2 separate regions of the Homo sapiens genome follow, and region 2 is linked to region 1. Evidence: fine-mapped expression QTL. A gene starts in region 1. The other region holds a variant in brackets. All regions are shown on one strand. Distances are from middle to middle. Region 1 holds the start of BEND5 (BEN domain containing 5). Region 2 overlaps AGBL4 (AGBL carboxypeptidase 4).

Region 1 (9,864 bases):
TTAGGTCTCAGAATTTTGGACTGAACTGACTCATATTTATCCACAAGTCCAGTCCATGTGGGAAGACTTAGCCCACTGCCTGGCACCTACAGTGTTCACTAAACAACTGTTTGAATGGCTCTCTTTTCTTGGGTAAAACAAAAATCTCTATCTCACAAGGATGTAGAATATGTGCACTGAACCTGGAACCAGGTGAGTATTTATAACATATTTGGTAGGGAAACACAGTGCTTATTCCTCTTCCTGCATTTCCCTGGAGTATAAGACTGACCACCTAGTATAACTCAATACTTGTGGAACTTAAATCAACCAGAGAAAATGTCTCCAGATTACGAATGTTCTTCTGGTAGAAAGAGTACACACAACTTCTGTCCCTAAGGAGCTTATAAGACAAAGCAGGTAGGCACACTAGAAAGAGAATTGGTCTTGGTGTCAAAGACCCCAATCTGAATTCTGCTTTCTGGATGTGCTTTTAAAAATAAAAACTGGTGTGCTCTTGAACAGCAAAACACCACATAAAAAGCAACTTGCCTGGGACAATTTTTTATTTCTGCTTATGAACCAGAACTCTGAAGCACTCTGTAGCACATACTATTTAGCTGTAAAAATTGGTGGTTGTTGAACATGAGAAATCACATTAGACTGAACCCTCAATGGTTAACATCCCAGTAGAATCCGCAACAGATGACAGCAGGCAATTTCCAATCTTTGCTCCAATGTATATCAGCAAAACATGTCAAAACCTAAATTAAAAGTTTTCACTCACTTTTTTCAAGAAAATAAATCCTTTTGTTGGCAGTTTCCCACTGATGACACGCAACAATCTTTGCATATGAAATCGGCTAGTCCTCTGCTTCACTGCTAACTTTGTAGAAGTTCCAAAGCATTTCTGGAGCAAATGATCTATTTGGACTAACAATGCCAAGCTGGGACCTGAGCCCTGAATGAGCTAAAATTACCAAAGCAATAAGAACATGGCTTTGGAAGCTATTTCCCCCAAGTGTGGGGTTTCTTCTAGCTAGTTGAGGGAGTGATAAAGAATGTTGACTTCTTCCAGATGAACAAAGTTGAATGAAAACTTAAAATCCTACGGCAGGTTTCTGTTCTGAAAAACAAGCTGCTGCTGCAGAGGTTCCTATCTCCCCTATTTCCCTCTCCTCAAGCACAAAAATGCACCTGTCTTCCCAAAGTTGATGAGTTCAACATGGGCACACCAGTGCAGACTATATGCTGGGCACTGAGGATGCAGGCACAAGGAAGCCAGGCCCCTGTCCTAGAGGAGTTCCCTGTCAGGCAGGAAGAGAGGCACATTCATGACTAATAAAAACAAGACATAAAATGCTACAATCCATAAGCAAGGCAAAACCAAAGTGAAAAGAGAGTTCTGAGGAGGGAGAGAGTCTCTCTTGGGCGCAGAGGGAGGAATAGGGACTACCACTGAAGCAAGGTCTCCAAATGTACTTTGTCCACTCCTTTATCACAGGTGGAGGGGGGCTGGACCACAAACTTCTGTCACATGTCTACCTTCCCCACCTGTAGGTGAGCTCCTTGCAGGCAGAGGCCCCATATCAGACAATGATTAATCCACCTTGGCTGGCTCAAAGGAGTGCGAGAGAGTGTGTTCACAGAAGAGTAAAAAATACCATAGGTCTCAGGGAAAGGGGAAGAGAGAGTGAGGCTGGAGAAGTAAGGTGGGGCTGGGATAGAGCTGGTCTAAGGAGGGCTATGAATGCCAGGCTAAGAAACTAAAACTTTTTTCAGTAGGCAATAGGGAGCTACAGAAGGTTCTAATGAGAGCAGTCAACTAAGACTGTGTTTTAGAAGATTATTCTAAAAGCAATTGGGAAAATAGATCAGAGACATGGTAATCAATTAGAAGACTGCTTCAATAGTTTAGATAAGAGCTGATGCTGACCTGAATGCAGGCAGTGATGGTGGAGCTGGAAAAGAAAAACTTAAAAGATAAACTGCAAAGCCCACCTTGAATTGGTCCATTCTCTGTGTTTCCCCAGTGCCTGGCTTCTACCTTTATTTAGCACTTACTTTGAGGCCCCCAAATTACACACTCCCTGAGGATGATACCCATTTCTTTTCCATCACTCCCTCCCCCACAGAAATCCTACATAGCAGGACATGAAAAGTCAACGCCTGCCACCCCTGGGTCGTGCTGTCATTTCAATCACAGTACCTGAGATGCATAGGTGCACTGGTATATTCACTTAATACAGCACTGGGCCTGGCATACAGAAAGCAGTAAGGAGACATCTGAAACAAAAAAATTCAGCACACTCAAACAACAGTAACAGAGCACAGGTGCCTAGATAGAACAACTTAAAATTTTAGGGCTCTAGGCACAGAGAAACCAGTTTGAGCCTCCTAAAAAAAAAATAAAATTCAACACTATGAGCCCCAGTAGCAGGCTGGATTGCAGTTAGATGATGGTGAGCTCTCCAAATGAGTAGTTCTCACTTTCACAACCTGCTTGGCAAATAAATGAGAGTAAAGAGAGAACAGAGGTCAAAGGTGAGTCAAACTTTGAGTTATGTGGACCCTCCAAGAGGGACAGCCTTAGTGAAGATTTATTCAAGCAAATGCCAACTGAAGAGATAGGCGGGTGGGGGACAGCTGTGTGTGCTCTGTAAGAGGGAGGATGGTAATGGAGAAAGAGCAGAATGGGCTTGAAAACTCAGAAACTAAAATTATACTCTGGCTTGAAAACTTGCCTTGAGCTGTAAGCTTCATGGACAGTTTTTCCATTTCCTTTCACTCCTTCCAAATCATGCTGTGTAGCTGATGGGAACATCGGCTACTTTACAAAGGAGACTGCCAAGTGGGGGCCTGGCACTGGAAGACCTGTGTTCCAATTCCAGCCTTGCCATTTATTAGCTGTGTGGCTGTAGGCAAGTCTCTGAGCTTCGGTGTCCTCATCTATGAAATGGAAATACTAACCACAGCAATACCTACCAAAATGTCACTTAGAGGACTAACAGAGATAATGTGTAGGCATATAGCAAGACTATCAGGAAAGAAGGAGTTTTGTTTTTCCTTGAACTGGGATTGTAATTTGATAAGTAGTGGTATAAACCACCTACTATGGGCAGTAAAATGTAAAGTCCCACAGCAGTCGGCTTTGACATTTCCTGAGTATAAAAAGAAGTATACTTCAAGACAGCTCTGGGCTGGCTTGGGCCAACACTCAGTATAGCAACATACTTCTCACCAAAAGCCAGAAAGCTGTGCTGAAACTACCTTGGAAACCATTCTATTTGTGTCAGAGAGATTAATTAATCAATTAATAGCTAATCCACAAACATAAAGCCACCTCTGCTTCCCACTTGAGGGGATTCCTCCTCACACCTGGTGCCATAGCACAGTGGTATTTACATATAGGAGATGCCAGATGAGCTCTCTGAAGTCACTGTAAGCAATTCTCAGAGCCACCAAGTTTAAGTCAGGAAGGGGTTTGAAGATACATAGGAGTTATTCCAGGGTAATGAATTCCCGAACTCACCCTGGCCCTTCGATCAGGTCTCTATGCAGGGCAGTGGGTACCCAGGAGATCAAAATTCAAAATGTGGTTTGGCCAACTTCAAGTTGTTGTCTTTTTTTCCCCTTTCTCCTCCCAAGAAAAAAACTGAAGAGAGGTAAGGGGAAGTGTTTTTCAACTAATTCAAACTGGCACACTTCTTTGAACCTACTCTGCCAGTTTCCAAATGATGCTTGGGTTTTTTAAATAACCATACAGATTTATCAACATTCTAACTTGGAGGATGAACAGTCTACAGGTTCAAAATTCATGGTTCTCAAACCAACAGCTACATGTATCTTGCTTCTGAGGACTTGTGTCGATTTCAAAATCAGAGCTGGTGGGAGCTGCCATCTGCCTAAGTGGCCTCTCTGCAGTGCCTGAAGAGTCAAGCACAGTGTATATGTATGTTTGCTGAATGAATGAGTAGATGAATGAAACAATCTCCAAGAGAGGAAAACAGCCATTACACACTAAGAAACTTATCACTGACTCTCTTTAACACATCACTTCTACTCTCCTAGGACCCTTCCAGATCTAGGAGTACAATACAATCGTCAAGAAGCATGCATGCATTTTCTTCTAGCAAAAGGGAAGCTAAGGTTACAACCTAGTTATAACTTCCTCAAGCCTATCGTCTTGGGAAATAAATTCCTAATCCTTTCCCTCAGGTAATTAAAGGCAAGTAAGCAAACAAAATAAAACCTAATCAGCTATGAATGGTTCCCTTTTCTAAAATCTGCTTCCCCTCCCTCAGTTTCTTTGGCCCTAGGTGTCTGGCAGTGGGTGGGCCTACACTTCGGTGTGCCAGGGCTTATCAGGGAGGTGGTATGGATAGAGCCTGTCAAAAAGGGTCCAAGTGCTGCTGGTCAGTTTCCAGTTCTTCCACTCTTCAACTTCTGCAAACCGATTTTTCAGAGGCAACATGAGTTGTGAGACTGAGCTAACTTGCCATGAGACCCTGGGCAAGTCTCTATGGGTTGAGAGAATGTTGGGTTCATCTTTTAGGCTAAATGTGAGGAAGCAAAGGAACTTGAAAAAAATAGAGAAGGTCTCAAAATTACAAAACATCTTCATTCAGTCACTAACCCTTCGTGTTCTTTCTGGTAGAAGGCAGGAACACTATTTGCCCACTTTAAGGTTCATTCTCCTTACCAGCAGGAGCTAAAAAGGCTGCTCCCCAAAACGGAGATGATACTTCCCCCTTCCTTGCTTGTCTAGACTCAAACTTTCTGGAACTAGCTGGGAAAGAGGGCCAGCTGTCTTCTCTTTACAAAGGAAAAGGTGTCTCAGCATGGCAGGAAGAACTGGAGCATAGGAGGATAAAGGGCTGGTTTCTTTCCCTATCACCAACTGAACCTCAGTACCCTCATCTACGAAATGGAGATGAGACTAGCTGCCTTAGCCCATCTCTCAGGGCCCTGGCAGGGCAGGGATGAGAGGTCCAGTGTTATTCTGACCCAGAAACTCTCTCCTGGCCCTCAACTCTCTCATTCAGGGAGCCTTCTGGGAGATTCAGAAAGGGGTGTGGAGGCTGAGGGATGCCTTAGGGCCTCTACCTCCTTACCTCTGCCACCTGGCCAGGGAGGGGCAGGAGAGTGTGGTGTGGAGCCCAGTGCACTGAGGTTCATGGCCTCCTCATCCTGTCCAATGTTGGCCCGGATGGGACAAGGATGTCATAGCTTCCCTCTGTGAGGAGGGACTCCCACCTAGAAGATCTGACAATATCCTTCTTGCTCCTCACTCCAAGGAGGTACCAACAGCCTTTAAAGGGAGAGAGACAGACAGCTTGAGAAACTTAATTCTTGACAGAAAAGAACAGAGGGAAGGAACTGGGAGAGAGGTAAAGAGAAGGTGAGAGAGAAATGACGGTACAAACAGGTAGGGAGAAAAATGGAAAGTGAAGGAACGAAGAAAACACAAAGAATCAGAAAGAGGAGGACAGACACAGATGAAGAGATGAAGACGGACTGACAGCGCGGGAGCTTCGGGGAAGCGGGGAAGACAAAGGGGACCATCCGGTCTTTTTAACTGGCCTGGCCTCTTAGAGACACCCCGTTCCCAAATGAAATGCCCAGAGGACGGGAGAAGGAGGCAGGAAGGAGCAAGCAGTGGCTCCCCCCGGTCCCCTCCGCCCGGGCCCCCGGCCCCTCCCGGGGTCCCAGCCCCCGCCCGGGTCCCACCGTCCCTCCCCGCCCGCTTGCTCACCTGCCAGCGCCAGGATCTGGGCCTTGTGGAGCAACAGCGCGCCCCAGTCGCGGGGGGCGCGCGGGGGGCTCTCGGGCCCGGCGCCCAATTCCTCCGGGCCCCGGTACACGGCGTACACCTTCTGGTTGTCAAAATCCAGCCGCGAGCGGGGGCTGAAGTCGCGCACGCACGACACGGGCAGCGCGTAGCAGACGTTGTCCTCCAGGAACCGCACAAAGGCGTACATGGTGGGCGCCGGGGGCGGGCCCCGGTCGGGCAGCTCAGCCCGCGGGGCGGGCGCGGAGGTGGGGATCCGGCGGGGGGCGCGAGTCTCGCTACGGTGCTGGGGGGGGCGGGGGCGGCTCCCCAGGACCCAGGCTCCCCCCACTGTTATTGTTCCTGAAAGCACCGTTCTGCCAATCGGCTGCTTTCGCCTGGGCGCGGAAAAGGGAGGGAGGGGGGGAAAGGGGGACGAGGGGCGGATGAGGGGGGTTTGGAAGCGCACTGCCACTTGCAAAGTCAGACCCGAGCAATCACAGCCGGAGCGCGATTCGAATGGGGAGGGAAAAGGGTTCAGAGATTCAGTTGCAATAAAAATAATAACAAGAGCATTGCAGGAAAAAAATGCATTGATTAAAAGGTGCGCTGCGTGCAGGATTATATTGCTTCAACAATCGCGCTGCCAAATTGCATTGCAACAAAACTGCATTGCCAAGTAGAGAAGTGTATGAGTGAGTGAATGCGGGATAGGGGTGGGGGCAATCTTGATTGAATCTCAAAGTGTAAACTTGGAAGCCAGCAGAAGTTTGGAGTGTTTTAAATGTAGCCACCCTACCCGCGCCCCCAGCCCCGCACCCTCCCCGCGCCTTTCCCAGCCCTTAGTTTGGCCCCGCCTTTTCTTTGCTTTCTTTCTTTTTGTTTGTTTGTTTGTTTGTTTTGTTCTGCAAAACTGCCAGCTCCCTCTGTGGAAAGGGTCAGTCAGACAGAAAATTTCCCCTAGAGCTGCCAAACCAGTTCTGACCAGAACTGGGGCTTATCTGAGATTTCCAGTTGTGCCAGCTGGCTGGGGAGGTGGAAGGTTTGTCAAGGGCTGCTCTCATCTGAGGGAGCAGTGGCGCCCCTCTCCTCTATAGTCTTTCTCCATTGAGATACCCTCTCCACAGCACGCCCACCACTGAGCAGGGACAACTTGGAATCGCGGAGGGAGTTGAGGAGCGCTCTGGGTAACACAGGCCCAAGGCTAGGGATTTCTGGAGCACTTTGAAGAGTACAGGAATAGTACTCCATGGAATAGCGGTCTTTGCTCTGTCTCTTGCCAAAGAGAGCCTGGAGGGGCTTGGGTCCCCTCCAAGACAAGCCGTGAGGACCAGCCAAAGGGGGCTGATTGGGCTCTGTACTCATAGGAACCCTATCCCACATCAGAGGAGGTCAGTACCTTCACAGGGATGCCTCGTATCAAATATGGCTAGTTATATTTCTGTTGCCTAGCCAGACCTGGCACTTGACAGGGAGTTAATGAATTTTGGGTAAAGAAGAATAAATAAAAACCCACATCCATCCATCCATCCATCCATCCATCCATCCATCCATCCATCCAACCATCCATCCATCTGTTCATTCATTCCTTTATTCAAGCAACCAATATTCACTGAGTTTACACCACCTGCCAGATTCTGGGCCAGGTGCTGGTGATAGAAATGAAAAGATAAACACCTGGATTCTTGGGCCTTGCAAAGTCAGTGTACCAGAACTTGAATCTCAGTTTTGGGTTCCTGTGCCAAAATTAGGTAACTGTATGAATAACATACCTTTCCCATCCTCACAACCTTTACAATCTAGTCTAGGAGTATTAAAGAAGTATAAGCAAGTAATGACAGTATAATGAGAAAAGTATTGTCATAGAGGAATGCTTAATGGAGGTGTTGGACTCAATTAAATGTTATATTTTTAAAAATTCATCTTAATAAACTTTAGCTGTAAGAAAAAAACAGAATAAGTGCACCAAAATGTTAATAGTGATTTTTTTAGCTTCTTAGTAGTGGTAGATGATTTTGTTTTTCCTTGTATTCATTGTGTGTGTGTGTGTGTATGTAACTATTTTCCACAATGTTTTATTACTTTATCATCAGAAAACATCAAACATTATAAAATCAAAGCACTGTGCTCATATTTCACATCAGCTGCACTGACAATGAGGCAGATATTTATTTCACTGTGAAATAGACAGTGCGTTATATAAGTGAATCCCATCAACATATAGCTCTCATATCCAAATGTGTAGGTCAGTACAAATTTTTTTAAACCAACCCACTGGTTATGTGGTACAGCCAAAAATGACCACCACTTGTCCTGATGCAGCTGTTGGTCTTATCTTGCCCCACAAGCTTGTGGAAAAAAAAGGAGCCACTCTGAGTTGTTCCAGCACATTTACTGTCATGATTATGATTTCTTTGGACTGATCCTCAGTGAGTTTTTATTTTAAGAATACATTCCTATGGTGGTCAAGGGGAAGTAATGTGCAGCAAGACTTCTGATAATTCACAAGATGGATCATGCAGAGTTGGCCGTATTTAACAAAAGTCCTTGAAGCTCCGGACTATGTTCCCAAAATGATTTCAAGTAGCCAATGGCCAACCTCCTCTCTGCATCTAAATGGGGGTGACCACAAAACATTACCAATCTCATCTCTTACTACCTTCCCAGACACAGTACACTCCAGACACCTAAACTATTTGACATTTCCAAAGATAGCATGTTTTAGCAGGTCCCAAGCTTTTGTGCTTTTTCTGCCTTCATCCTGGGAAGTTCTTCCTTCCTCAACTTACCCTGAAAATCAGCTCAAATGTCATTGCCTTTGTGAAGCCTTTCCCAACCACCCACACTTTTCAAGGATAGCCTATCTCTTTCTACTACAATATTTTGTCCCAGCACTTTTTATCTTCCCTCACTAGAATAAGAGCTCTTTGAGGGGAGGCAAAGGCTGAGTAACTTTAGCATCCCAGGTACCTAGCACAGGGCTGGGGAGTAAATGTTTATAAAACAAATGTATTAAAGAAGGACATAAAGAGAGCATGAATAACAAACCTCTTGCACATTTTTTCTTGAAAGTCTGTTCCTCTCTTTTTTTTTTTTTTTTTTTTTTTCTTGAGACGGAGTTTCGCTCTTGTTGCCCAGGCTGGAGTGCAATGGCCTGGTCTCGGCTCACTGCCACTTCCACCTCCCAGGTTCAAGCGATTCTCCTGCCTCAGCCTCCCAAGTAGCTGGGATTACAGGTGCTCGCCACCACGCCTGGCTAATTTTTGTATTTTTAGTAGAGACGAGTTTTCACCATGTTGGTCAGGCTGGTCTCAAATTCCTGACCTCAGGCAATCCACCCTCCTCGGCCTCCCAATGTGCTGGGATTACAGATGTGAGCCACCGCGCCCGGCCTTTATTATTATTAATATTATTATTATTATTACACTTTAAGCTCTGGTATACATGTGCAAAACATGCAGGTTTGTTACATAGGTATACACATGCCATGATGGTTTGCTGCACTCATCAACTCATCAACTACATTAGGTATTTCTCCTAATGCTATCCCTCCCCTAGTCCCCCAGCCCCCCACCCCCCTACAGGCCCCGGTATGTGATGTTCCCCTCCCCGTATCTATGTGTTCTCATTGTTCACCTCCCACTTATGAGAGAGAATAGGACACAAACAAATGAAAAAACATTCCATGCTCATGGATAGGAAGAATCAATATTGTGAAAATGGTCATATTGCCCAAAGTAATTTATAGATTCAATGCTATCCCCATCAAGCTACCATTAACTTTCTTCACGGAATTAGAAAAAACTACTTTAAATTTCATATGGAACCAAAAAAGAGCCCATGTAGCCAACACAATCCTAAGCAAAAAGAACAAAACTGAGGCATCATGCTACCTGACTTCAAACCATACTAGAAGGCTACAGTAGCCAAAACAGCATAGTACTGGTACCAAAACAGGTATATAGACCAATGGAACAGAACAGAGGCCTCAGAAATAATGCCACACATCTACAACCATCTGATGTTTGACAAACCTGACAAAAACAAGCATTGGGGAAAGGATTCCCTGTTTAATAAATAGTGTTAGGAAAACTAGCTAGCCATATGCACAAAAC
Region 2 (9,864 bases), 20 kb before region 1:
CAGGAGGCAGGCAAAAGGGATGGTGCCACAGAAGCACATGGCTAAGGGACTCTGTGATCAGACTGCCTGACGCATGGCAAAGCAAGAGGGGCCTCAGTTTTGAAACCTGGTTCTACCCTTTCCTGGGTGTGTGGCCTCAGGCAAGTTACCTAATCTCTCTGAGCCTGTTTTATCCACTGCTGAGGTTGTTTTATATATGGAAAGTATTTAGTGTCTGGCCCAAAGCAGGTATTCCTAGAAACCAGGCTTTGCCTGTAATGAACACTTTCCCACCTCCATTTCCTGCCTGGCAAATCCAAAAAAAACATAAGCTTGTCACATGGCAATATGGAAGGCAAAACCCTGCTCTAATGGAGAAACACACTGCTATTCTGACAATGGGGAAAAGCCTAACAACTTCCTCTGGATGTTCTAAATACCTAGGCAGTTGTTAGAAAAGGGACAGCCTGGAGTTGTCCCTCAACCCCATCCCCACTGCCCCCAGGAAAACGGAGTCTAGGGAGAAAGGGGAAGGAGGGTCCTGAATTGTTCGGCCACCCTGAAATCAACTTTTAAAATAATCTGGGATTATTTTAAACTGTGGCTACTTCTGATTTGGGCAACAGTTCAAAAAAAGTCCTTCAAAGTAGAAGATGACTGATATTTTTCAGACAAACTACTCCACTTCTTATTACTAGGTCTCTTCCTGCCATCTGAATTAAGCAGGATACAACAGTTTTTGAAACTGCCCCACCACTAACTCTAAACCGGCAGGCAGACTGTGGGCCTCTTAGGCCTTACCTCCACAAGGGAGATGTAAACATCTAACTAGACAAAATGGCTCTTGTCCACCCGCTTTGGGCCTTTCTCAAAGCCCAACTTTTTTATAGTACTCCTGCTCATTGTGAAAATGAACTGAGGCTGAAAGAGACAGGAAAGAGCTCTGAGATAAACAGGCCCCAAGAAGAGAGTCCTGGCAAAGAGAAGACTGAGCCACAACTAGTGATGTCTAAAAAAATCTAGGAGGTCAAATGGGGTGGTTGAGAGCTAGAGATGGGAAGATGGAATTCTGCCCAGGAAAAGTTGGGCGTGGTAATGGACAAATTCTATAAGCTACAGACCAGTGAGTTTGAAATCAAGTCCAGGCATGGTTGTAAAACAGAGTGTTCAAATATGATTTCTAAGGACTTACAAGGGGAAACAGGAAATCTCTAGGTGTCATCCAGGGTTGACCAAAGATTAAGACATCCCAGACCGTCACATCTGTGTTCTGCTGTAGGACAATGGGTGCCTATGATGTGCCAAGTGCTATATACACATTTTCTCATGCACATCTTCAAATGATTCTATATCTTGATGCAGTACCTACTGAGCACCTACTATATGCCAGCCTCCAGGCAGATGACTTTACTGCATTTATTCATTTACTCCTTTTTTTTTTGGACAGAGTCTCGCTCTGTCGCCAGGCTGGAGTGCAGTGGCATGATCTTGGCTCACTGCAACCTCTGCTTCCCGGGTTCAAGCTATTCTCCTGCCTCAGCCTCCTGAGTAGCTGGGACTACAGGCACGCGCCCCCATGCCCAGCTAATTTTTGTATTTTTAGTAGAGGCGGGGTTTCACCATGTTGGCCAGGATGGTCTCGATCTCTTGACCTCGTGATCCGCCTGCCTCGGCCTCCCAAAGTGCTGGGATTACAGGCGTGAGCCACTGCCCCCGGCCCATTTGCTCCTTTTAAGAACCATAATAGCTGATACTATCATTCACTCTCTTGTACAGATGAGGAAACTAAGGCTGAGGAAGTTAAGTAACTTGCCCGAGGCAACAAAATTTGAATTTGGAAGAGCTGGGGTTGAAAACCTCAGTATTTCTGACCTCAGAGCCCATTAGGGCTCTTAATCACTGAGCTGGTTCTCCTGTCTGTATGTAGTGGGCTTTAAGATACCTAGAGGAGAAAACAGACACCTGAGAAGGGTTAAACAAATGTGTATGAAGTTACACAGGTAATAAATTAAGACAGCTGAGATTCAAACCCAAGTAGTATCTGTTGCTGAAGCCCAGGTTGTCTCCAGTACAGGAGAAAACCAGCAAGAAGCATTTGGCTGACATCAGCTGCCTTTTCTAAGGCACCATCAGAGACCTGGGCTTAAAGAAACCAGTTCAGACTGCAAAGGATTTTAAAGATCAAAGCTGGTATTTTAGCGGACCTTGGACAGCACACAAGGCACAAACCCAGAGGGTTACAGAGGTATTAGTGATCCAGCTCTAAAAAGTTGAAACAGATATGCAGGCCACAATGGCTTTCTCCTTTTTCAAAACTTTCAGCCAGCTTATGATCTAGCCAACAGGACATTTTCTCTTCTTTTTGCATTCTCCTCTCTAAAACGGAGATAATAATCCCTACCTGGCTTGCAATAAGACTATCGGAATTGTCCAATGAGATAAAAATGTCAAGGTGCTTTAAAACCTGTAAAATGCCATGCACATGTGAATTACTGTTATTACTCTAGTTATCTATGCCTCTTCTGGTTAGAATTCATCATTTTTGCCTATATTCCCTGACAAAGCACACACAAAATCTAAAACCATCATCTGCCTCCCTCCTGCAATTAGAGCACTGATTTTATTTGCCTGGTGTCACACTGCGTACATATTTGTGTTCCCTGTGAGACTTGTGTGCATCCTGAAGGCAAGGATTATGTCTGCTCCTCTTTGTATTCCTCACAGAGCCCTTGAGAGTCTTATTTGAACTAATGTTACCCGAGTCACACCACAATGAATTATACTGTCTAAGTGGTACTTACAGTGTAACAAACTGGGGAGGACACCGTAGCCTTGGACTTTGCCTTCTAAGAACAGGGAATCTAGCTGAGGAGAAACCAAGAGAGACCCTAGAATTTACTCCATTCTCACACATGGGGGCTTACCCTCCCCCAACTGGGTCTCTATTGTTCTGCTTCCCTTCATCCCCTAAAATTCTCTGTGGCTGCCAACACCCGGTTTAAACACACCATTCTAATCTACTTGTGCATTGTTTTTTAAAAAGGCACTCTGTCTTGTTCATTACGTTATTCCCAGCACCTAACCCAGTCCTGGAACAAAGGATACCCTCGATAACTGTTCACTGAATAAAATAAATAATGAATGAAGGAATATACATAGAAAAACATCTGTACCTTGTACATTGGAATGTCACCATGCTTTTTGCATCCTCGGCATTTACTTATTTGGGGGAGGAGGGGCAGGAAAGGGAGAAAAAGGAAAAGGGGACTGGCATTTATTGAACACTTACAATATGGGGGTCACGGGGCAAAAGTTTACATATGCAAATTACATATGCTTCCTTATTTAATTTTGACAGTGGAGGAAAGTGAGGTTCCTTCCCATCAGAAAGGGTTGTTTACCATGCTAAGATCACAGACAAGGAAAGTTCTGTTTTACAGAGAGAGATGATATCCTTTGTGGGGAGTAAAGGGGATGGAGGAGACACCCCCATGTTGGGAAAAATGAAGTCTAAGAGCTAAAGAAGGCCATACGGGTGAGGGTCTAGAGAGAGGCACGCAGGACCAGGGGTCAGAAGACCCTTAGGAATAAGCCAGTGACACTTTTTGGGCTTGTTTCCTCATCAGCAAAATGACGGTGACAGTCTATAGCCTAAGTTCTTTCACAACTCCATGCCTCCATGTTGGAATACTTCCTGTTAAATCCATCTTTTCTTGTGTGTGGAATGAATGAAAGAATGAATAAATGTACAAATGAAGACGTGTACGATTCAGTGAAGCCTCTGAAACATACTCTCTTGCTGCTATCCCCCACCCTTGGGTGTGGCTCCACCTTTCTGACCCCAACCTTTCCAAGGTGCGCCATTACAACTCCTGGCTGCTGACGGACCTGCTTCCCACTCTGAGTCCCCATCAGTCTGAAAAGACCAGGCGGCTGCTCTCCACTACCATCTACCATTCGTAGGACCCCACTACCTCGGTGAGTAAATAATGATTCTTCCAGACAGGTAGATTTCTTTTGAAAACTGAGCACCTCCTGACCTGTTGGCCTCCCTCGTCTCTGAATTTGTGTGAATGATCCAGCACCCAAGCTAGACAAAGGCCTTTGAGCTAGGCCCCTAGCTGAGGTGGACAAAAAATGAAAATACTCAAGGATATGCCTCCAGGAGCAACACTCAAATGAGGCCCAGGGGGCAGAGAACGGCAAAGCCTGGGCCCTACATCAACCCTAACCCAGGACATGTTTCTCAGAGGGCAACTGAAGCCGAGAGTCAAACAAGGGTCTCTCATTCGCTTTCTGGTTGTTCTCTGCCTTCTTAGTGGTGTTTATAGATCAGGATCTGTTACAGCAAGGGGATATCTTACCAGACTTTCCAAGAGAGACTTCTCCCTTCAGACGCTAATCTCTCTCCCAGAACTGGCACTCTGCGTTTTAATAACATGTTTACCTCCATCACTACCCTCTCCCTACTTCCCAATGTCTTAATCTTCTTTGTATCTCCCTAAGTTCCTAGGCTCAGAAAGCATTTGGTCAATGTTAGCTGACTGATTGAATAAACAAATGAACAAACATATATAACCCCTCTTATCTTCAATATTGTAAGAGGATACTGAGGCAGAGAAGTTAGTTAACCTGCCCAAGGTCATATAGCCAACTACTGGCTGGGGGTGCCCGAGTTAAAAGCCAAAGTTAACCCTGTCTTAGCTCCTCCATTACATGATGTTGAACAGGAGCTAACAGTAATCAAGCATTAACAGAATGTCAGGCACTATGCGGTGTGTCACAAGGCTGTAATATTATCATTCCCATTTTACATATGAGAACACTGAGGGTCAGAGACATACATGCTCTTTGCCTAAATTGCTCCTTACTCTCCCCATCTACTGATTCCTGTTTGGGTAACAAAAATTCATCATTCAGGCTTCAGCCTAAAAGTTGTTTCCTTCAGGAAGCCTTCCTTCTCTGAC[C/G]CCTCAAAATCTGGTGGGTAATCCCCTCTGCTGTCCCACAGTCCTCTATGGTTTTGTCCCTATGATGGCATTTATGTACTGTGCTGTCATTGATTGTTTCAGGATCTGTTCCCCTCATCAAACTTTAAACTCCTCAAGGGCAGAGGGCAAGGGCTGTATTGCAAATATACTGAATTCTTACACTAGGCTAGGTCCCTGGCATGTAGCAGGAGACCAGCAAGTATTCATGGAAGAAAATAAGGTCATAGGAAAGGAAGGAAGAAAGGAAAGAAGGACATGAGCTTCCCAAAGCCACAGAGTTGGGAAGTAGGGAAGTTGGGATTTGAATCCAAGCCGTGAAAACATACAACCTCCTCTTAAGGGTAGAGATCCTTTTATTTTATTCTTGCGGATTTGTCTTGGAAGTTGGCACATTAGCATCCTCCTATTAACATGTGTTAATCAATAGACTTTTAAGCTTTCACTGATGAGAGACAGTGGGTGTGATTTTCCAGGATGCCTGTAGCCCTGAGAGGATAGGGTGGGTGGTCTATGCATACTTGGGGCTCCAGTTGATTTATGTTGAGTCCAACCCATTGTAATGATGATGGTGACTCAGATCAGGGAAGAGCTAGCCACTGGCCTGTGCAATGGCCTTCAAGGCCTGTGGGATGGGAGAGCCTAGAAAGATCAAGACACTGAAACTATGCTTCAGGTCAAGTTTTTCTACATGTTTTAGGACTAAAAGAGGCATATAATGATGTAAAATGCAGGGTGTCTTACCACCCCAGAGGCTTAGGAGTGGTTTCTAGAGTTTAAACTCAGTTCATAATCATGAAAAACAGGTAGTTTCCCTGGGAGTTGAATTAAGTACCAAGAATTTCTGTTTTTGGTGTACTTCCCCACAAGCCCCCAAGAAGTTCATAAAAGGCATAGCATACAAAGCACACTGAAAATGCAAATTATTCACTTTAAGATTGGGAAACATTTTTTCTCTCTGAAAATTTCAGTTATCCCCATCCCCCATCACCACTACAAGAACAATACAGCTTTTACAAATTTTTACATTTATGATTTCTCTTTGAGATTTTATTTTAATAAAGAACTTTACTAACTTTTGAAGTTGCAAACCATATGCGACTTTTCGTGTCACTGTGAACCTCTGTAGACTATGATTTGGGACAATGGCCAAGGCAATGGTAGAGTTGGGGAGTGGACAAAGTCCAGCCTATGAATTGAGTGACTAGAGTTGAGACAGAACTCTACCTCTGCCTCCCTAAGTAACTCTGGGGAAGTCCCAATGTCATTTCCTTTTCTATGACAAGGGCATGAAAGGCCTCTCTGCTGACTTCTTGGACCACCCAAAGATCTACTGAGCCACTACCTTGGGGATATACTTTAAGAAGCAAATGACACCTACAAATATAAGTAAATTAGGGTAAGAATAAATCAAAGAAGAATGAAGCTTCATATCTAAATATATTATCTAGATAATGAAAACCTTCACAAGGGCAAAATTGTATTTTATTTAAACTTTGGGGATATTTCTAGACTAGATTACCACCTTCTTCAAGCAAAGCACACTGACTCAGAGTTATTAATTACTGTCTTCAGGGGCTATGGAGGCAAAGAACTTGTGTTATACCGATTTCCTCAATATTGACTGGGCTCTATCTTTTACAGTTCTGGATTCTTATATTCTAAAAGCATTTTTCTGTCTTTTTCTCTCTGGTAAGCAGTCATTTCTTCCGGCAGTCAAAGCTGCTGCCTTTCAGGTTTCTCGATCCCTGCTTCTAAACCACTTTAGATCAGAAAACCTGATTAGTTAAAATAGGGTGCAATATAAGAACCTATTAAGTTCTATGAGCAAACCAAAGGAGTTTTATACGTCTTTATATTCATCTTCCTAAGGTCATGTGCCTCCCTGCTCAAAGCTTTCTAATGCTTTCCATTCCTACCAAAACAAGTCCAGACATCCCAGGCTGGTAAAGTTTTCAAGTCCTTCCATCTTCTGTCCTCAAAGCACATTTGCATTATTCCTCTTAGTGTGCTCCAGGTATTTGCCCATGCTCACCAGTGCTGCTCAGCCTCCTCTTGTGCCTTGAAACACTGCCCAACCTTCAAAGCTCAGTTTCTTACTGAAGTCTCTCCATGCCCTCAGTTACAAATAACCTCTCCAACCCCTGAATTCTCATATCATTTTGTCAGCATTCTCCTTTGGCATTTATCACTTTCTGACTTAAACTAATACATGTTGTTAGGATCATGTCTACTTCTTTTTACTATCCTGAAACCTCCTTGGAGAGGTTCCCTACGATCCCTGTTACTGCCTCCTGCTGAATGAATGCATAAGGGACTGAGCAGTGACAAATATTTTGTCAGCTCTTAGTCTCTGACCCATGTTCGCCAATGTTCCCATAGCTGAGGCTGCTGCATACATAAGCTCCTACCAGATTCACTATGAGTGGGGAGTGACTCTTCCTTGAGGTAACTGGTAAGCCAAGAGTCTGTCCTTCCCTAGCCTCAGGGCACTTGGTCTCCCTCTCCCCTTTCCCTTCCTGGAAGAGGATCTGCATGAAGTATTTCACCCAAGTGGAGTGGTAGGTGACCTGCTGGGGCACTCACCGCTGCCAAGCCGCAGGAGCAGCACGTCCTGGAGCCTCCGGTTAAGGTCACGGAGCTCCTTCATTTCAGACACAAGTGCCCCGTACTCCTTGAGCTTCTTGGCCTGTTGTACCAGCTGCCTCCGAGTCCGCTCCAGCTCCTGCTGGAGGTGGCGCATCTCTTCCTGTTGCTGCTGGTAGTTGCGCAGCAGCTCCTCATACAGAGCCCGGGGCACCACAGCATCTTCTAGACTGTCCATGTCCTCTGTGCCTGGCGAGGCCTCCACGAAGACCTCTTCCGGACACGTGCTATGGCCCAGGCTCAGGCCGTTCTGCTTCTCTAGCCGAGCCACCACTGCCTCGATGCTCTTGTGCGCCACTTCGCTCGGCTTCCGCCCCTCAGGTCTCTGTGTAGGACAACGAGAATCAGTTCAGGCAAGGGCAGCTGGGATTTTCTTGGACTGCAGATCAATATTTCCCCAGACAATCCTAAAATCACAGAATCACAGAACATCAGTGCTTGGAGAAACCTGTGCAAACACTTAGTCAAAGCCCTTCATTTTATAAATGGGGAAACATTTTATAAATTTTATAAATGGGGTTCCGAGTGGGGAAGGGGCTTGCCCAAAGTCATAACCAGGACACTGGTTTCCCAGGCCTGCACTTTTTCCTTTTCACCACTCTGCCTCCTGGATGCATATACCATGACCACCCTTCCCAACTCCCCAGGCCCCAGCCCACCCACAATGCCTAGGCAGTGGCTTGCTCATGGGGGTGTTCAATATGTATTTGTGGAGAATCAGGGAGAAATGAGGCCAGGCCAAGTGATCCCAGAGGACTCACAAATGTCTTCAACAACAAAAACATAAAATTCCTCCCCTAAAGGCAATTCACCATGTAAACTTTTCATCGACAATGCTTTAGATGGAAAGGATGTTAAAAACTCTAATCTACTCTAATCTAGAGCAGAAAACATGTCTTATTTTCTCTGTTTCTCCTCTGCCTACTCACTCAGAACTGGCACTCAGTAGGGGCTTGAAAAATGTTTACTCAACTGAAAAGTTCAAAGAATTCTAGCATTGAAAGGTACTTTCAGTTTAACTGCCTCATGTTACAGGTGAGAAAACTGAGGGTCAGAGAGTTCAGGGAAGGACTACACTTAGGGTCACATAGTGAGATACAAACAGAGCCAAAACCAGAATTTGGAATCTAACTTCCAGTACAAGGCTCCTTCCAGACTCTCCTCAGCAAGACAGTGGATAGAGAGAAGAAAGTTCATTTACAAGAGAATTATCCAGGACCCCCTCCAGAGCTTGGGGTTCCACTGCCTAAGGAAATTCTAGCTCAAGTAGCTACAGCTTCTACTGAGGGGCAGTGAGAGTTACAAGATCAAATGAATTCTTCACTCAGGGCAGGAGGGTTAGGAGCTCTCCTGACTGGGGCATGTGTAGGAAGTGCAGACAACTGAGGACATGAGATTCCAGGCAGTTCTAAGTTTCAGGAAATTTAAGGAAAACCAAACCAAATCAAACCCAGCCCAATGAAACCATGACTCTGATATTGTGTTACATGACAAAATCGTAAGTCGTTTTATCTGCTGAGATAAGGTGCTACTAGTGTAGATGAATTTATCATTTATCTAAAGTGATCGTTACAATATGTCTGCGTCACTATAATGTGAGACCCCTGGAGGCAAGGACCATGTCTGGCTAATGGTTCCAGGTACGAGCACAGGGCCAGGCGCATAGCAGGAGTACAATGAATGCCATGAACTGAACTCAGCTACATTCCTTGGGAACACCCTCAACCTTGTGACCAAAATCAGACCATGGTCAATGCAGAAGACATCCCACTTCCTTATCGTCCTTCTCCCTTCCTCTCAGGTATCTACTGCACAGAAAAAAACAGCTAGCTTGCCGAACAAGATTTTCAGCAGTTTCCAAAGTGAAGGCTGGAGACCAACTGGGGCACACAGCAAGAAAATGCAACCTCATGCAAATGTTTTCATCTAACCCGAGGTCTCACAAATCCCTTCTGTGAACCTCGTGCACTTCCCAATGAGTCCAGCCTTAGCTATCTGGGGCACTCTGACAGTGACTGGCCCTAAACTTCTCCCCAAGAACATCTGTTTAACGTTCTTGGAGCTTAGCAGTGACCTCTCCAGAGCTGTGGGCCAAGGAGAAACACACCGTTCCAAACCTCCAACAGCGATGACACTGCACAGACTGTGCAAACAGGACCAAGCTTGGTGGCACAGCATGAATCAGGGCTCTCTAGAAAGTTGGCCAGCAAGGCAAATACACACGAGTTGTCCCACGCTTTCACTACCCTGAAAA

What was found. PIP is the estimated chance that this variant, and not a neighbour inherited with it, causes the effect.
Region 2: its variant is fine-mapped to the expression of BEND5 in whole blood (TOPMed, PIP 0.94).

Annotation. Positions count from the first base shown.
Region 1 is chr1:48,770,872-48,780,735 of GRCh38, forward strand. BEND5 (BEN domain containing 5) reads right to left here and starts at 6,020. Exons shown (of 6, transcript NM_024603.4): 1 at 5,735-6,020. The coding sequence starts at 5,960. The region is part of intron 6 of AGBL4 (AGBL carboxypeptidase 4); the gene reads right to left.
Region 2 is chr1:48,751,350-48,761,213 of GRCh38, forward strand. All of the region lies in intron 6 of AGBL4 (AGBL carboxypeptidase 4), which reads right to left. BEND5 (BEN domain containing 5) reads right to left here. Exons shown (of 6, transcript NM_024603.4): 3 at 7,551-7,935. Among named protein-coding and RNA genes, the nearest start is that of BEND5, 21 kb to the right of the region's middle. The variant C/G (reference allele first, on the strand shown) is at 4,947.